2 separate regions of the Homo sapiens genome follow, and region 2 is linked to region 1. The links come from fine-mapping of genetic effects on gene expression. A gene starts in region 1. The other region holds a variant in brackets. All regions are shown on one strand. Distances are between the middles of the regions.

The links. PIP is the estimated chance that this variant, and not a neighbour inherited with it, causes the effect.
Region 2: its variant is fine-mapped to the expression of CSRP1 in whole blood (TOPMed, PIP above 0.99).

The regions. Positions count from the first base shown.
Region 1 is chr1:201,505,888-201,508,787 of GRCh38, reverse strand. It overlaps CSRP1 (cysteine and glycine rich protein 1), which reads left to right and starts at 1,665. Exons shown (of 6, transcript NM_004078.3): 1 at 1,665-1,718. CSRP1-AS1 (CSRP1 antisense RNA 1) reads right to left here and starts at 1,575. Exons shown (of 2, transcript NR_160747.1): 1 at 1,369-1,575. RefSeq lists a silencer at 1,334-1,963.
Region 2 is chr1:201,481,295-201,484,194 of GRCh38, reverse strand. It overlaps CSRP1 (cysteine and glycine rich protein 1), which reads left to right. Exons shown (of 6, transcript NM_004078.3): 6 at 1-665. Among named protein-coding and RNA genes, the nearest start is that of PHLDA3, 14 kb to the right of the region's middle. RefSeq lists an enhancer at 878-1,207. The variant A/G (reference allele first, on the strand shown) is at 1,302.

The sequences.
Region 1 (2,900 bases):
GGGATCGCCATCTTTGGGCGGAAGCCCTTGGTCTCTGACACTGATGGTGGTTCTGCAGTTTAATGGACCTGTTTAACTATTGCTTAGTCAGTGCAGCCGTGACCAGAAATTCTTCTGGTTTCTCCTCCTTCATCTTGGTTGGGTCAGATGAAGATGGCCCAATCTGCAAGAAACACTGGTTGTGTGCTTCTAGACATTTTAATCTTGGAGGGCCTTGTTTATAGGATGGACCTGGCCAAAGGAAAGATGTTACTTATGGTAGAAAGCAAGAAAAACCTAGATAAACACTTTTTTTTTTGAGAAACACTCTTGCTCTGTCGCCCAGGCTGGAGTGCAGTGGTGCAATCTTGGCTCACTGCAACCTCTGCCTCCTGAGTTCAAGTGATCCTTCCACCTCAGCCTCTCGAGTAGCTTGGATTACAGGCACACACCACCACGCCTGGCTAATTTTTTTAATTTTTTTGTAGAAACAGGGTTTCACCAGGTCTCGAACTCCTGGGTTTAAGCAATCTGCCTGCCTCGGCCTCCCAAAGTGTTGGGATTACAGGCGTGAGCCACAGTGCCTGGCCAAATACTTCATTTTCTAGATCATAAGATGCTTAACTTTATTCCTGGCAAAAAGTTGATTCAGCAAACCAGGGCTTTAAGTGAAGCCGGTTGGGGCCTGAACCCTTGACACCTGCCCAGGGTGGAAGACATAGCAGCTGCATCTATGGGCCACCTGGGGTGTAGGGTGACCAGCTGGAGGCTGTGAGCTTCTCTGCTCCCTGAAATGCCTGCACGGGGCACTCAGGAAGGGCTGGGGACTGGGTGAGGAGGTGTGGACAGAATGTCCCCTGGAAACTGCCCCAGGGGCAGCTTGAGTGGCCTGAGCCTGTGTCTGTCCTACTGAAGGTTGGAGCCCCAGAGAAAAGCCTCTATGGAGGCACCCACTTTTCAGAACTGCTGCTTTTGCGGGAGAACACCTTTTTCCAGGTGTTGTCCTTAGGGTAGCAGGGAAGACTGGGAAAAACTGAGGGGCAAGAGCTGTTGGAGGGGGGAGTTACATTTATTGAGTGTCTATTACATGCCGGGTGCTGCTGAAGGTCTGCGGGTCCTACCGGATCTCCTTTTAGCCCCTCACATCCCTGTAGATTACACGCCGTTCACAGATGACCCTGAACCCAGAAGGGCTGTCTAGGCCCAGGGCCCAGCTAGTGAGTGGATGGGCAGAATCAGACCTGCCCTGGAAGGGTCTGTCTTACCCTGGCGCCCAAAATGTGTCCCTCACCCTCTGCCACCAGGACAAGTAAATTCGAGACACCCTTTCGTTAGGGGCTCAAGTTTATCATGGGTCTGACCTCTAAGGTCATATCTCCGCCTTCTCACCTGACAGACAGGAAACTCCTGAAATGCCCCTCGCACGTGCAAGACGTTTTCCGCGGTGGCGGCGACAGGGCGCACAGTGGGACCGCAGCACGAGCTCGGAGCACCCCCAGAGTCGGCGACTCCTGCCCCCGCCCCTGCCGGCCGGCCTTCCCGGGGCCTAGGAGGGCAGCACCGCCGGGCTTCGCGCCATGACATCAGCCCTGGAGTGGTGCAGTGTGCAAAGCCCACTGGTTGGCGTGGCCCGGGACACGCCTTCCGCGGAGCGGAACAAAACGGCGCGCAGGCCGGGCGCACCCAGCCGCCACTTCCGAGAGCGCCTGCCGCCCCTGCGCCGCCGAGCCAGCTGCCAGGTGAGTGCGCCCTGAGTCGCGCGGCTCTGCCCGCCGCGGAGGGGCGCCTGGGCACGCACTCAGCGCCTCCCGGTCTTGCCAGCCCCGCCGCAGCCCCGGGGCTGTCGCAGGCGGGGAACTGTGAGAAGTGACCGCAGTTAGCCCGGGCAGTGCTGCTCTTTTCTGGAGGCACTAGGTCCGTCCCCATCCCGGGCCTTCCTGGGCTTCCTGGACACAGTTGACTTCCGCGTGTGCGTGACCCAGGGCGACCCGGCTCCCCGCAACCGCCTGCAAGTCGGGCAGAACAATCGGCGATTCTGCGCGCCACTGACGCTCATTGTATGGCAGAGAGATGAGGGCATCCGTGCCACCCCCTCCCTCACCCTCCTGCTGGGGAGAAAATGCCCGCGGGCGGGGTGGGGCAAACATCTGGGCCTGACCTTGGACATCTGTGTCCCTGAGCGCAGGTGTGAGTTTTCCCTCTTGTGAAATAACTGCATGGAAACCTCTCCACTCCAAATCTTGGTGCTAGGTGGTGATGGTTACTGAAACCTGAAAGAGCCTGCAGTCAGTGTTTTGTGGCCTCAGTCCTTGAAAGCTGGGAAGTGATAAAGGGGCTGGTATTGAGCACATTTAAAGCAAATCACAATGTGTTAGCTAACAATCAGCCCTCTGAGGCAGGTATTGTATCTACTGGTACAGACTAGAGAATATTTTGCATGCTTCTGGTTCTGGTGCTGTTGTGAACTAACCAGGACCCAGGAATCGGCTGGAGCAATAGTGGGCTCAGGCTCTGCCTAGAGCCCTGGGCTCCAGCCACCCACCAGCTGCTCCCTGAGAGTGAATGAATGGGCAGGCTCTCCCCACGCTGGGATACTATCACAGTGGCACCGAGGAAATCCACTGGGCCCTGGTAGAAAGTATATCAGTATATCATGAAGAGGTGGCTTGGAGTCTTGGTGGGATTGTTTGGAAGGCAGAGTTTTGACTCTTGGATTTGCCACTTAACGCGCAGGTTTCCTTGGACAAACTATTTAACTTCTCAATGTCTCAGTTTCTTTCAGGGATGCTACTTGGGGAGCATATTACACAGAACCTCCAACACAGGAGTGATCTCTCAGTTACTGTCTTTCTTGTCCTCCCCTCATCCCTTGCCTTCCTCCCAGAAGCTAAGGAGGCTGGAGGTGCTGGTTGTCTCCCTCT
Region 2 (2,900 bases), 25 kb after region 1:
GAGTCACTATTGGAGGCAGAGAGGCATGCAGGCAGGGTCCTAGGAGCCCCTGCTTCTCCAGGCCTCTTGCCTTTGAGTCTTTGTGGAATGGATAGCCTCCCACTAGGACTGGGAGGAGAATAACCCAGGTCTTAAGGACCCCAAAGTCAGGATGTTGTTTGATCTTCTCAAACATCTAGTTCCCTGCTTGATGGGAGGATCCTAATGAAATACCTGAAACATATATTGGCATTTATCAATGGCTCAAATCTTCATTTATCTCTGGCCTTAACCCTGGCTCCTGAGGCTGCGGCCAGCAGAGCCCAGGCCAGGGCTCTGTTCTTGCCACACCTGCTTGATCCTCAGATGTGGAGGGAGGTAGGCACTGCCTCAGTCTTCATCCAAACACCTTTCCCTTTGCCCTGAGACCTCAGAATCTTCCCTTTAACCCAAGACCCTGCCTCTTCCACTCCACCCTTCTCCAGGGACCCTTAGATCACATCACTCCACCCCTGCCAGGCCCCAGGTTAGGAATAGTGGTGGGAGGAAGGGGAAAGGGCTGGGCCTCACCGCTCCCAGCAACTGAAAGGACAACACTATCTGGAGCCACCCACTGAAAGGGCTGCAGGCATGGGCTGTACCCAAGCTGATTTCTCATCTGGTCAATAAAGCTGTTTAGACCAGAACTCTGGTGTCCAATCCTGTGTCTGTGGAGCTGGGAGGGAACTCAATGGGAGCAATCAAATTAGCAGGGGCTTTGGGAGGCCGAGGCAGGCGGATCACCTGAGGTCAGGAGTTTGAGACCAGCCTGGCTAACATGGTGAAATTCTGACTCAACTAAAAATACAAAAAATGAGCCAGGCATGGTGGTGGGTGCCTGTAATCCCAGCTACTTGGGAGGCTGAGGCAGGAGAATCGCTTGAACCCGGGAGGCAGAGGTTGCAGTGAGCTGAGATCACACCATTGTACTCCAGCCTAGGCAACAAATGTGAAACTCTGTCTCAAAAAAAAAGCAGGCAGCCTGGTGGAAATGAATCAAAGTGGATTCGTTCCTGCTTTTTCTAAGGACCAATTACTTCTCAGTATCAATGCCAACTGAACCACACTGTCTGAAGTGACCCGACCAGCCAAACACCACTGGCTTGTCCTGTCTGGTCTCCACCCCCAAATCTGGGCCTGGGAATTGCATGGACTTTGGACTTGGAGGGGCTCAGCTAGGCCCCAAAACTGTGCTCAGAACTTCTCCCAGCTCGGAAAGCCCCAGCCTAAGAGGGAAACTCAACCAGAGGAACTTTCACGTCAAATCTAGAAAGCTCACTTCT[A/G]CCTAGGAGGGGTGTGGTGGAGGGGCCTGGCTCAGCCTGCTGTGCTGTTAGGGCCCCCACAGCAAGTCCGTGGAAGGCCACATTTTTTTTTGGAAATAGGTTCATGTGAGGGGTTGCGGCATCCTTCATCTTAGGCATACCTGCCTGATGCGTTGGGGCTGTGCTGCTTTGCTTCAGCCCTTCTCGAAAATGTGCCCACACTAAGTTTTCAAAACAAAAGCAGATGCTTTAATAACAACAAGGCCTCGTGTACCTATTTCCCAGATGACCAGCTCCAACAGTGGCCTTGACAGAGGCCCCTCCTGGACTCTGAGAAAGGCACCTATGCATGCATAACACCCATCAATGGTGCAGAGCAATAGAAAAGTACAAGATGACCGGGAGAAGAGCTGGAGGAGTTCAGGGAATGCCAGCCCAGGGTGGGCTCTGGCTGGGAGTTCTGCAATCGGGGTCAAGGGCTCCATCTTGGTAACCCCTCTGGCTCCAGCACAGGGGGTGGCCCACGAAAGGTGCTCCGGACAAGTTTCCGCAGCCAGGAGGACGGCTGGTTCCACACACCCAGGTGGACCCTTCTGTCTGGGAGGGGCCTACAGGAGTGGCCCGGATGGGAGCCTTTGGGGCCCAAAGCTGGAGAGAGGCTGCCCTCTGCTGGCTGATCGGGAGGGCCTGTCGGCGACCGTCCTGTGCCTTGCACCACTAGCTGTCTTGCTCCCGGGCCACTGTTTTTCAGTGCAGCCCCACGGTGGGCAAGGGGCCCTGACGCACCTCCTGGGAATAAGACCTGGGTAAAGGCAGTAGGCTGTAAGCCAGCTGCGGCCAGGCCAGGAAGCACTCACTGGACGGTGAAGGGCCAGCCAGAGGGGCGCATCAAGGAAGGAGGAACACCAGGCAGGGGAGGCACTTGGGGAAGGAGGGTCGGCTGACGGGGAGGGGGCCCAGCATCTGCAAGCGCGGCGCTTGCGCCGTCCCGGGAGACACCAGGTGGTGCTGTGGGGTCAGGGCAAAAGGCAGGCGCTGCGTTTCCGCGCACCCCACGCCCTCCTCCTCTCTCTGTGGACCCTGAGGACTCAGCTCCTGCGCAAGACAGCGCACGCGTCTAATCCCCGACGCTCACTTCTCCTTGGAGGGCTGTCGCGCTTCGGGGCCCTGTGGAATACCAAACCCTCACCAAAGAGTGAGCAAGGACTCTTTTTTTTGAGACAGAGTTTTCCTCTTGTTGCCCACGCTGGAGTGCAATGGTGCGATCTCGGCTCAACGCAACCTCCGCCTCCCGGGTTCAAGCGATTCTCCTGGCTCAGCCTCTGAGTGGCTGGGATTACAGGCATAAGCCACCCCGCCCGGCTAATTTTTGTATTTTTTTGGTAGAGACGGGGTTTCTCCATGTTGGTCAAGCTAGTTGGCCTAGAACTCCCGACCTCAGGTGATCTGCCCACCTCGGCCTCCCAAAGTGCTGGGATTACAGGCATGAGCCACCGCACCCGGCCAGGGTGAGCTAGGTCTTTATGTCCACTTAGGTATTTCTTTTCTCGTTTCTGTCATCTCCGAGCAAGGCGTCCAGGGCGACCTCGGGAGAATGTGTTTGGTGGGAGCTATGCCCAG